2 linked regions of the Homo sapiens genome follow. The protein of the gene in region 2 interacts with the protein of the main gene of each other region in a pairwise test. Each region holds a gene or a part of one and is shown on either strand. Other genes may lie near its edges.

Evidence for each region.
Region 1: the proteins of HCN2 (region 2) and KCNE2 interact in a two-hybrid assay, tested with the Homo sapiens proteins (one study listed by BioGRID).

What each region holds. Positions count from the first base shown.
Region 1 is NC_000021.9:34,358,989-34,367,165, reverse strand, and holds the start of KCNE2 (potassium voltage-gated channel subfamily E member 2), read right to left. Parts: upstream 3,161-8,177; 5' UTR 3,015-3,160; intron 1-3,014. UniProt on the Homo sapiens protein: Ancillary protein that functions as a regulatory subunit of the voltage-gated potassium (Kv) channel complex composed of pore-forming and potassium-conducting alpha subunits and of regulatory beta subunits.
Region 2 is NC_000019.10:613,595-617,659, reverse strand, and holds the end of HCN2 (potassium/sodium hyperpolarization-activated cyclic nucleotide-gated channel 2), read right to left. Parts: intron 3,809-4,065; coding exon 3,644-3,808; intron 1,866-3,643; coding exon 1,186-1,865; 3' UTR 501-1,185; downstream 1-500. Other genes in the region: POLRMT (DNA-directed RNA polymerase, mitochondrial isoform 1 precursor), read left to right, coding at 5-90, 180-241, 337-386. UniProt on the Homo sapiens protein: Hyperpolarization-activated ion channel that is permeable to sodium and potassium ions. Displays lower selectivity for K(+) over Na(+) ions. Contributes to the native pacemaker currents in heart (If) and in neurons (Ih).

The sequences.
Region 1 (8,177 bases), on a different chromosome or scaffold from region 2:
TTTTTTGAGATGGGGTCTGGCTCTGTGAGTATAGTCTTTTTCTCTTGTAGGAAGCCCAGCCGGTTGTTACCAATCCATAGTACTTTCCCTGACCTCCCCAGGTCTAGGCAGAGACCCTTTTTCTGCCCCTTCTGCAAATGACCATGTTAGTTTTGTTTTTTTCCTTTTTTTTTTTTTTTTTTTTTTTTTTTGAGATGGAGTCTCTTTTGCCCAGGCTGGAGTGCAGTGGCGCGATCTCGGCTTACTGCAAGCTCTGCCTCCCGGGTTTACGCCATTCTCCTGCCTCAGCCTCCTGAGTAGCTGGGTCTACAGGCACCCGCCACGAAGCCCGGCTAATTTTTTGTATTTTTAGTACAGACGGGGTTTCACCATGTTAGCCAGGATGGTCTCGATCTCCTGACCTCGTGATCCGCCCACCTTGGCCTCCCAAAGTGCTGGGATTACAGGCGTGAGCCACCGTGCCCGGCCTTGTTTTCGTTTTTGAATTACCCATGTATTGTGTGCTTATTCATGTGATCCTCAAAACCACTCTATAAACTCCTACCTTCAGGATGTTTAGTGAGATTCAGTAACTGAGTCCCGATGACAGGAGAGCTTGAGCCCCCGGAAGGCAGGGATTGCTTTACTCATCTCTGAATCCCGGGACCCTACACAGCGATGGGTACGTAGCAAATCTTTACTAAAAATCTGTTGAATGAAGGTGTGAATGAATGACAGTTCCTCTGTGGAATTCAACTGGAAACTACCAGAACAGTGATTCTTAATTTATTCTTAAGGGGTGTGGGAATTGGGGGTGGGGGAGGGGCGGTGTTAAAGATCCCTCGAAAAGTAAAATAAAATGATGTGACTTAATTTTTCCCCAAGAAAGTATACCTATGCACGTAGGAAGCTCTACATTCAATTTCAGGGGACTCCTGGGACCCCTAAGGCCCATCCAAGAGTCTCTGCCACAAAAGGTCTTTGAGATGAGGGACTTCAGTGCTGAATTCCACTGGAGTCATTTGGGTTTGTTTCCAGGTGCAGGCATGGCAGCGTTCACCAGCCTTTTAGAGCTAAGCAGCCCCAACTGCCCATTATTTGTTCAACCCTTCTAATGTGAACAAAGGCCCCACTGCTAAGCCGGTCAGGAGGTGCTTTTTGATAAGACTTAATCACAGGGATGAAAGGGCCTATAGGGATTAAATGTCTAAGTGCTCACCCGTGGCCAGGCCAAATAAACAGGATCCAAAAGGGATTTGGCTTTTGAATACGGATGCATGAGATGTGGCCGAGTGGCCCATGCCTGCTCCATGACCACAGGAAAAAAACAAATCACAGTGTGTGAAAGCAGCTTCGTTGAAGGACATTATGCTAAGACATTCCAATTATAAGTGGGTTGATTTCAATTTTTTATTCCCAGAATTACTGTTTAACTGACTGATAGACATCAACCATATTTGGAGGCCAGGCACAGTGGTTCACACCTGTAATCCCAGCACTTCGGGAGGCCGAGGTGGGAGGATCGCTTGAACCCAGGAGTTCGAGATCAGCCTGGACAACATAGCGAGACACCACCTCTACAAAACATAAAAAAATAGCTGGATGTGATGGCACACTCCTATAGTCCCAGCTACTCAGGAGGCTGAGGTGGGAGGATAGCTTGAACCTGGGAGGTCAAGGCTGCAGTAAGCCATGATCACACCACTGCACTCAGCAGTGACAGTGAGACCCTGTCTCAAAAATCAAATCGAAACAAACCATATTTGGTATACATACTTATCCTACCCCTAAGTAGAATATCATAATAGGCATTTACTTTAGTAATGCTAAGACAACTACCATTTATGTTCTCTGGAATTATATGAAATAGCCATTTATATAGGTTAGAAATGGTCAAATATGGGCAATTCATGTGTATCAACCTAGGAGGACCTACATTTCCAGTGAATGCTTCTTGCTGAGTCCTAGCACAGGCTGGGCCCCTGGAGATCATTTAGGCTGGTTTGCTCTCTGATAGGTGGAATAACTATAGCCTAGAGGGCTTAAGTCACCTGTCCAAGATCACAAGCCTCTCAAGTTGGCCACAGTGCCTGGACTAGAACTCACATCACCCAAGCCAGTGTCCAGCACTGACTGTCCTAGCAGAGGTCACACATTCCAATAACTCACTGTTTTCATTGCTGTGACCAGTTGGCTCAACTGGGTACAAGACATAAGATCAAGACCATGATTTGAGCTTACACATGTCATTAGTTGTGCCCTGTCTCCAGGCTACAGAATGATCCCCTAATTCCAGCCATTCCTGTCATGAATGTGTGTTATTCATGACAACAGCAATCAGGACACTATTAGGAAAGTAACACTCATTTGACCCCAAAGTCCAGAGTTTTCTTTTCTTTCTTTTTTTTTTTTTTGAGATGGAGTCTCACTCTGTCGCCCAGGCTGGAGTGCAGTGGCGTGATCTCGGCTCACTGCAAGCTCCACCTCCCGGGTTCATGCCGTTCTCCTGCCTCAGCTTCCTGAGTAGCTGGGACTACAGGCGCCAGCCACCACGCCAGGCTAATTTTTTTTGTATTTTTAGTAGAGATGGGGTTTCACTATGTTGGCCAGGCTGGTCTCGATCTCCTGACCTCAGGTGATCCGCCTGCCTCAGCCTCTCAAAGTGCTGGGATTACAGGCGTGAGCCACCGCGCCCAGCCCCAAAGTTTTCTTTTCTTGAAACATGGTAGATCGCTCACATCACCTGGGCCTATAAAAGGCAGCAAAGTCTTTCATTTTTATATCAAGAAGAGAAAACAATATGATTACCTACGTTTACCATGAATCCTCCATTTTAAAAACTCTCAAAATTTTCATTCTAAGGCAATTAACAAAGAAATGAGTAAGGAAAACACAAGAAGGAAAGAAGGAAGAGTGGATGAGGAGCCAGGCCATGTACCAGGAAAATCATTCCTTTTATCATTTTCTGGAAAAGGCACATAGATAACTTTGTTACTTAATTCCTCAAAAAATAAAGAATGTGTGCTAAGACTTACCTATGCAGTGTGTGGGCAGGATGAAATTCCTTTCCAAAGCCAGGCTGTTCTGAACCTTCTTGCTGGCGTTAGCGAGCTCTCTTCTGGGTTGCACACAAGCCTCAGCCTGCTGGGCACCTTCACCTTACAACCATCTAAGCCCTTGCAACTGCAGTCTGCAATCCTATGCTTTTATGAACCCACATGTTTAATCTAATCGTATGTGGAAAGTTAAATACTAACTGGCAGTTGGAATTCACCTTGGTGCCTGATGGGGTGTGTGCCTCAGGGACTCTGGCTTTGGGCAGAGTGGCACAAGTTCCTGCTCTGGGACCCTTCCTGCCAGCTCCAGCCAGGGCAGGGCCTGGGTACAGTGAACATCTTTCCCCAGAAGAAGTCTTCCTCTTAGGGTAGGCTTGGGGGACAACAGCATTCCCTGCCAGAATACGTGGGAAGGGCTGGGTGGGGTGGCTCACGCCTGTAATCCCAGCACTTTGGGAGGCTGAGGCGGGCAGATCACCTGAGATCAGGAGTTCAAGACCAGCCTTGCCAACATGGTGAAACCCCGTCTCTACTTAAAAATGTAAAAATTAGCCAGGTGTGGTGGCACACACCTGTAGTCCCTGCTACTCTGGAGGCTGAGGCAGGAGAATCACTTGAATCCACAAGGCAGAAGTTACAGTGAGCTGAAATCATACCACGGCACTCCAGGCTGGGTGACAGAGTGAGACTCTGTCTCAATGAAAGAAGAAAGAAGAAGAGGAAGAGGAAGAGGAAGAAGGAAGAAGAAGGAAGAAGAAGGAAGAAGAAGGAAGAAGAAGGAAGAAGAAAGAAGAAGAAAGAAGAAGAAGACGATGTGGGAAGGACAGGGCCCCAGGGAGAGGAGCCAAGAACAGCCATCTCTGGGTGGTTGGTATGGGTTGAGGGGGTCAGTATAATTCCAGGCAAGTGCCGTGTTCTGAAGACGCTAAATAAGCTAGATTCTGGTAAATACTCCTCCACGGGACCACATCCAAATGAGTTTATAACAACATTGTTGTCTTGTAAAAGAGAAACGGGCTGCAAGGGTACTAAGGTACTACATGGAGGAGCTGGAAGTTAAGTCCAACAAAGAGGTTTTGAGGTTTTTGTTTGTTGTTGTTGTTTTGAAACAGAGTCTTACTCTGTCACCCAGGCTGGAGTGCAGTGGCGCAATCATAGCTCACTACAGCTTTGAACTCTTGGGCTTGAGGGATCCTCCTGCCTCAGCCTCCCAAGTAATGGGACTACAAGTGTGTACAAAGCCTGGTTAATTTTTATTTTTATTTTTGTAGAAATAGGGTCTTGCTGTGTTGCCCAGGCTGGTCTCAAACTCTTGGCCGCAAAGGATCCTCCAGCCTCAGTCTCCTAAGGCGGTGGGATTACAGGTGTGAGCCATGGTGCCTGGCCCCCAGCAAAGTATTTAAAGACCTAGCAAGAGCTAAACATACTCTATTTACCAAAAGATCCTTTTCTATCATGGTGGGGACCCTTGGAATTGGGAGAACTGAGTCTTTATATTGGCTATCATTTAGGAGTGCTTACCATGTGCTTTTATCGTATTAACCTCAGGTAATCATTGCCACAACCTGATGTGGAAGGTACTGTGAACTTAGCCAAGGGAATCAGGGCACAAGAGGTCTGATGACATGGAGGTGGAGCCATTTGGATTTGAATCCAATTTAAATGGCAGCCACGGAAGTTACACTCACTCACTCAAAATCACTTCAAGGTCATGTGGGTGGTCATTACTCTGTAACTTGTCTCATGGTTTTGTAAAAGGAAGGTTCACTTTGTTTTAAAATTGGAGTTTCACATTAAATGGTGCTCTGAACCATGTGGCTTGAAGCACACTGGGTGGCAAGAGGAAGATAGCTAAGATTTAACATGATCTACAAATTATTGCAGAGTTAACGTTATTAGGTGTATTTTAAAGAAATACGAGGATCTCTGTAACTCCGCAAAAGCTTCTCATTAACACCATTTGTCCTCATGGGTTGTCTTCACTGAACAAGATAGGCAAACTCAGCCAGGAGGAACACTTTGGTGGTGTAACTGTGTTCACCATGCCTCTGCAGAAATGGAAGCAAAACGTTCAAGTAAGAATTCCGCTAGGAGACGGTGCCACCTGCTGGTGGGAACAGGGAACTGAGGCCAATCTTCTAACTCAGCCCTTGCGGTTTAACTTCACTCTTGAATTCTGGCGCCGAGGAGAGGGGAATCAAAGCAGCGTGTTGTGCTTTGGTAATTAAAGGCAGAACTGGACGGCGATGTGTCATGGAGGCTGGCAAACCAGGTGAGCAAATTACTTACTGTCCCTGGTCTTTGGATTCTTCGTCTGTAAGATAGAGATAAGAGTTCCTGCTCATTTGGCTTGTTATAAAAGTTAAATGTGATCACAGATATATACAGCACTTAGCACAGAACCTGGCACGAGGTAGGATAGTAAAATCTATAAATTGAAATGCAGCAAAATTCATTTCTTGTTTTAATAAAAGCAAATGTAGAATGTTTTACCCATTCAATGAAAAACTAGGTGGGAAAAAACACTTTAAGAAAAAACTTTTAAACAGAAATCACCAGCCGGACATGGTGGCTCACGCCTGTAATCCCAGAACTTTGGGAGGCCGAGGCGGGTGGATCACCTGAACTCAGCAGTTCGGGACCAGCCTGGCCAAAATGGTGAAACCCAGTCTCTACTAAAAATACAAAAATTAGCCAGGCGTGGTGGCACACGTCCGTAATCCCAGCTACTTGGGAGGCTGAGGCAGGAGAATCGCTTGAACCGGGGAGGCGAAGGTTGCATTGAGCCGAGATGGTGCCACTGCACTCCAGCCTGGCCGACAGAGCGAGACTCTGTCTTAAACAAACAAACAAAACCCAGAAATCACCAAATAAGGTGGTAGAAAGATATCTGCTGTGGCATAAATGTTTGTGTCCCCCCAAAATTCATATAGTGAAATTCTAACTCCCCATGTGATATTACTAAAAGGTAGGGCTTTTGGGAGGTGGTTAGGCCAAGAGGATGGAGACCCCGTGAATGCGATTAATGCCCTTTTAAAAGAGGCTACAGGGAGGTTGCCTTCCCCTTTCCACCATGTGAGGTCGCAGCTAGAAGGCACGGTCTATGAATCAAAGAGGGAGACCTCACCAGACACCGCATCTGCCAGTGCCTTGGTCTTGGACCTGCCAGCCTCCAAACTATGAGCAATAACTTTTTGTTATTTATAAGTCATCCAGTTTATAATTTTTACTATAACTGCCCCAATGACTAAGATAATATCTGAATATATCTATAATCACAATATCCTTTAAAATAAGTACCTATTAAAAGAAGTATTATTAAACTGAATAACAAAATAAAATCTAGCTATATGCTTCTTAAAAGATAAACATCTAGGCTGGGGCTGGTGGCTCACACCTGTAATCCCAGCACTTCGGGAGGGCGAGACGGGCGGATCACTTGAACCCAAGAGTTCGAGACCACCCTGGCCAACATGGCGAAACCTCATCTCTACTAAAAATATAAAAATCAGCCAGGCATGGTGGCATATGCCTGTAATCCCAGCTACTTGGGAGGCTGAGGCATAAGAATCACTTGAACCTGGGAGGCAGAGGTTGCAGTGAGCCAAGATCACGCTGCTACACTCCAGCCTGGGTGAAACAGCAAGACTCTGTCTCAAAAAATAAAATACAAAATAAAGATGCACATCTAAAATAAAAACAAATAAAAAGTTGAAAATAAGGTGATGAAAAAACATATCAAGCTAAGGCTAAAATGCAGACATCTAAGAAAAACTGAAATTTCAGGTGATCCATAGGATATTAAATGTCACTACAATTTGATAAAAGAAACAACCTGCGAAGAAGATAGTAAAATCATGGGCTTGTATATGGACTCAAAATATTCAAAGTGAAACAGGCAGATTTACAAGAAATTGAGGCATGCACAATGGTAGGAATTAGGTTTCAGAAACTGATAGATTTTTTTAAAAAGTAAACATATAGAATTGAGTAATAGAATTAATTACCTTTATAAAATAGATGGAGAGAACCCACACCTAACCAACAAATGATGTGCATTCTTTATAAGTGTCCATAAAACGGTTTTAAAAACTCACCATGTGCTGGGTCACAAAAGAAGTCCAACCAAATTTTTAAATATCAGCTTTATGTAGACTGGGTTCCATTACTACAATGCAGTTGAATTATAAATCAGCAAAAATATAGTCTGTACACCTTGATATATCTGAAAACCAAAAAATAAGTATATCATCACGTAACATATGGATAAAGAGGAAAACACATAAATAATAAGATATTAAATTACAAAGGAACTGCCATATATTTGAAAACTTCTGGGATGCAGACAATGTGAACCTTAGAGGCAAATTTATACAGTAAATGAATTCACTAAAAGGAAAAGAGGCTGGGCATGGTGGCTTATACCTGTAATCCCACTGCTTTGGGAGGCTGAGGCAGGAGGATCACTTGAGGCCAGGAGTTTGAGAACAGCTTGGGTGACATAGTGAGACACTGAGACTCTATCTCTATAAAAAAGAAATTGTTTAAAATTATCTGGGAATGGTGGTGCATAGCTGTAGCCCTAGCTACTCAGGAGGCTGAGGTGGGAAGAGGCTTGAGCCCAGGAGTTCTAGGTTAGACTGAGCTATTATGGTGCCACTGCACTCCAGTCTGGGTGATAGAGTGAAACCCTGTCTCTAAAAAATAAAAATAAATAAAAGGAAAATAATAGGAACTCATTAAACTCAAAAAGCAAAAGAACCAAAAAATAAACTAAAAATGTAGAATAAATGAAACTTTAGAACAAAAACAGAAAGGAACAAAAGAGAAAACAAATAAAAATAGAATCAACTAAATAAAAAGTCACTCTGGAAATACAATTTGAAGTTTTGGATGAAATATATAATTTGCCAGAAAAATATAAATTTCCAGAGTCAGCCCAAGAATAAATAGAATCTCCGCAGAAATCTATTTTTTAAATGTATCAATTTAGTGGATGGATTTACCAGCAGCATAGGCAAAGCTGAAGAGAGGATTAGTGAATTAGAAATCTAGTCAGCAGAAAATATCTACAGTGAAGCACAGAACAAAATAATAGGATACACCCAAGAAAGTATGAGAGATACAGGAAAAAGGACTAAC
Region 2 (4,065 bases):
CCAGGTGTGCCGGGAGCAGTTTGTCCGCTTGCACAGCGAGCCCATCCTGCAGGACCTGTCCAGATTCCTGGTCAAGCGGTTCTGCTCTGAGTAAGGCGCTCCCTGACCCCAACTACCTGGATTCCCCCCCCACCCCAAAACCTGGCCTCAGCCTCACCCCACCCTGCTTCCAACCCCAGGCCCCAGAAGATCTTGGAGGCCAGCCAGCTGAAGGAGACACTGCAGGCGGTGCCCAAGCCAGGTAGGCGGGTGGGCAGCCTCGCAAGGGTGGCTCGAACTGCGGGCCAGGGCGGGGCTTTCCCGCCACCCACGCCGTCCGCTCTGCTTCCTCCGCAGGGGCCTTCGACCTGGAGCAGGTGAAGCGTTCCACCTACTTCTTCAGCTGACACCCCGTGAGCCTTGTCAGTGTGTAAATAAAGCTCTTTTGCCACCCCCAGGAGCCACTGTCTTCAGGAAGGGTGCACGCCCTGCGGGTCTCGGGCAATCACACGCGGCCAGGCTTGGCGCCAATGCTGTCGTTTATTGCGCGGAATGGGGGTGTGGGGGTTAATGGGGCGTGGGGGGCCACGGTGGGGGCACTGCTGCCTCGGCTCGTCAGTACATTCATCACGGCGGCGGGACCCCAGCCTCCCCCCCGCGCCCTGCGCAGCCAGGCCTGCCTCTCGGTGCCAGTGCTGGAGGGAGGCGGGGTGCTGCTCCCCGAGGTCACCGGGGGACGCGCGCGGACGGGGGCCGGGCCGGTTATTGCGTGAGCGCGATGGGGGCAGCGGGAAGCCGGCGGGCCAAGTATTGCACTTAGAAAACGATCCTCCTCGGACGGGGGCCACCTAGAGGGTGGGGGGCGGGCGGGGCTCCACAGCCGGCTCCTCTCAGCCACTGGGCCGCCCCGTCCCTGTCTTACAGCTGGGGGAACTGAGGCACCGAGGTGAAGGGAGCCCCCTCGCACGCGAGGCCGCCGCCGGGGGCAGGGGCGATGGGGGTGGGCGCGGGGCGATGAGGGGGGACGGCCGGGGGCGCGGAGGGGGCTGCCCCGCCGGCCCTGCCCGTCCGTCCAACTACGGCTACCTACGTCTCGTCTATGGCTTCTGGGCGGACTGGCGGCCGGGGCAGCGCAATGGCATGGCTTTGGTCTGGATGACGGCCCCGCCCCCGGCCCGCCTGGGCCCGCGGGGCGGTCGGCGAGGGTCACAAGTTGGACGAGAGGCGCGAGCGCGCGGAGTCCTGGGGGTCCAGGCCGCCGGCGGCGCCGGGTGAGGCCGAGTCCCTGCGGTCCGGGCTGGGCGCGGCGGCCCGGGCAGCGGGCGTGGGCCCCAAGCGCGGTGTGGAGCTGCTGGCCGGGCGTGTGGAGGCCGCGGGGCCGGGGGCGCCGTGAGGCAGCGAGGGCTGCGAGGCGGACAGTGGGCGCGACGCGCGGCTCAGGCGGCGCGCGGGCAGGGCGGGCCCAGCAAGGGGGGCGGCGGGCAGGCCGCCGTAGGGCGAGGTCCGCGGTGCCCGGGGGCTGGCGGGCGCGCCCGGGGGGCTGGCGGGGGGCGGGGGCCCGGGTGAGGCGGCGGCAGGTGCGGGCCCCGGGGGCGGGCGGCGCACGAGGCGCGGCGAGCCGAGCGCCAGCGGCCCCACGAGCGGCCGCGCCACCTGCGGGCAGAAGCTCATGGCCGCCGCCTGCTGCAGCGTGGCGATGGCCGAGGTGACCTGCGGCGGCGGCGGCGGCGGCGGGAAGAGGCCCACGCGCTGACCCAGCTCGGCCTGCTGCACCATCTCGCGGTCGTACTTGACGATCTCCTGGATGATGGCGTTCTCCTGGTTGTTGAATACGCCCGAGTTGAGGTCATGCTGCACCTTGTGCAGGAGGATGGAATTCTTCTTGCCTGCGGGAGAGGGGGCGTTAGCGTGTGCACAGGGAGCGCCTGCTGCGTACAGCGGGCACCGAGCACCTACTCTGCACCGCGGGTGCGCACACAGTGCTTGCCGTGTAGAGCAAGCATGCATTTACCACCTACTGTATACAATAAGCACATATGTAGCATCTCTGGCCTATAGTATGGATATTGAGTACCTGCCATATACAGGCTGAGCACCTGCTATGCACAGCCAGCATGCATGAAGCACCTGCATACAGAAAGCAGGGCTTTTGTTTTGCTTTGTTTCTGAGACGGAGTCTTGCTCTGTCGCCCGGGCTGGAGTGCAGTGGCGCGATCTCGGCCCACTGCAAGGTCCACCTCCCGGGTTCACACCATTCTCCTGCCTCATCCTCCCGAGTAGCTGGGACTACAGGCGCCCGCCACCACACCCGGCTAATTTTTTGTATTTTTTTTTTAGTAGAGACGGGGTTTCACCATGTTAGCCAGGATGGTCTCAATCTCCTGACCTCGTGATCCACCCACCTTGGCCTCCGAAAGTGCTGGGACTACAGGCGTGAGCCACCGCGCCTGGCAGTAAACAGGTATTTAATGCCTGCTGTGTACATGGAGCAGGTATCACTGTGCACCAAGTATGCATGTGTACCACCTGTATACGCTGATTATGTAATGACTGCCTCCAGTGTGCCACAGGCATACCGAAAACACCTGCCTGTACACAGCCTGTGCTGAGCACCTGCTGTATACAGAAGTTATAACCTAAGCACCTGATACTCAGGAACGGGTTGCATACTCACTGTATAGAGCAAGTTGTGGAGAGCTTCCTACTGTACACCAGGGAGCTCCCTGACACCACTCCGTCGCACCTGTCCTGCGTTTCAGCCATGGTCTTCATTCCCATTCCCACGAACAGCAGCATGAGCCGCCATCTCTCTGGCGCCTACATCCAGTCATCAGGGCTCTGCCCCTCCCTGCCCCAGAGACTGCCCCCCTGAGAGGCCAGGTCACCGTCTCCCTCCTGGACACGGCCCGCCTTGGCGGATACAATCTGACCAGGTCCTCCGCCCACCTAGAACCCTCCATGGCTCCCTGATGCTCCTGATTTAGTCTAAACTCTCCCTGCCGCCCACTGGGCCCTGTGTGTCTGGCCTCCCCTTCTTCCCCAACCTCCTCCAGGCCTCCCTGGCTCTCTGGACTCTAGGCCTCTTTTCCACCTCAGGGCCTTGGGATGTGCTGTGTCCACTCCACGAACACATCTTCCTCCCCGTTTCCACATGGCATCCCTTACCCTGGTCTCCACTCTGCATTCCCAACTCAGGGAAGCCCACCGGCCCCACCTGCCCTGCTGGCACACAGCCCAGTCGTGTGTGATTTCATCACCAGTCCATAAGCCTCCCTGGGAGTCTGAGTGGGCCCCCGGGTCTGTCCCCTGCACCCCCAGCACACAGCAGGTGCTCACCGAGCATTCGGCACAACCGCAAACACCCTGTGCATTCCCTCCCTTGGGAAACAGGCTGCCTCTGGCTGAAGTAGGACAATAGGTCAGAAAATCAGCCTCTAGACCCAAAGGGGTCCTAGGAGCGGCCAGCCGCTGCCCCTGCCCCAGCCACGCCCCTGCTGCCATGGCCACACTCCTGATGCCTTGGCCACGTCTCTGCCCCAACCGTGCCCCTGATGCCACAGCCACGCCCTTCCCCCTGCCACTGTCCAAGCCACTCTCCTGATGCCTTGGCCACGCCCCTCCCCCGCCAGGGCACCCGCCCCGGCCACGCCCCCGGCCCGCTCACCGATGCGGTCCAGGCGGTCGATGGCCACCGTCTCGAAGGCGCGCCGCATCATGGGGTACTCCTCCAGCACCTCGTTGAAGTTGTCCACGCTCAGCGAATAGAGGCGGCAGTAGGTGTCAGCCCGCACGCTCGCCGTGCGGCGGCCCCGGGTGAGCAGGCAGATCTCTGCACGTGGCGCGCAGGGGGGGGTTGCTGGACGAGGCGGGCGCCGCGGCCCTCCCCGCCCAGGCACACGGCCCGGCCTCTGCACCTTGGCCAGCGTGGGCGCTTCCCACCCAGGCTCTCCCTGGTGCCGGCCCCGGCCCCATCCCCGGCCCCATCCCCGGCCCCATCCCCGGCCCCATCCCCATCCCCGGCCCCATCCCCATCCCCATCCCCGGCCCCATCCCCATCCCCATCCCCATCCCCGGCCCCATCCCCAT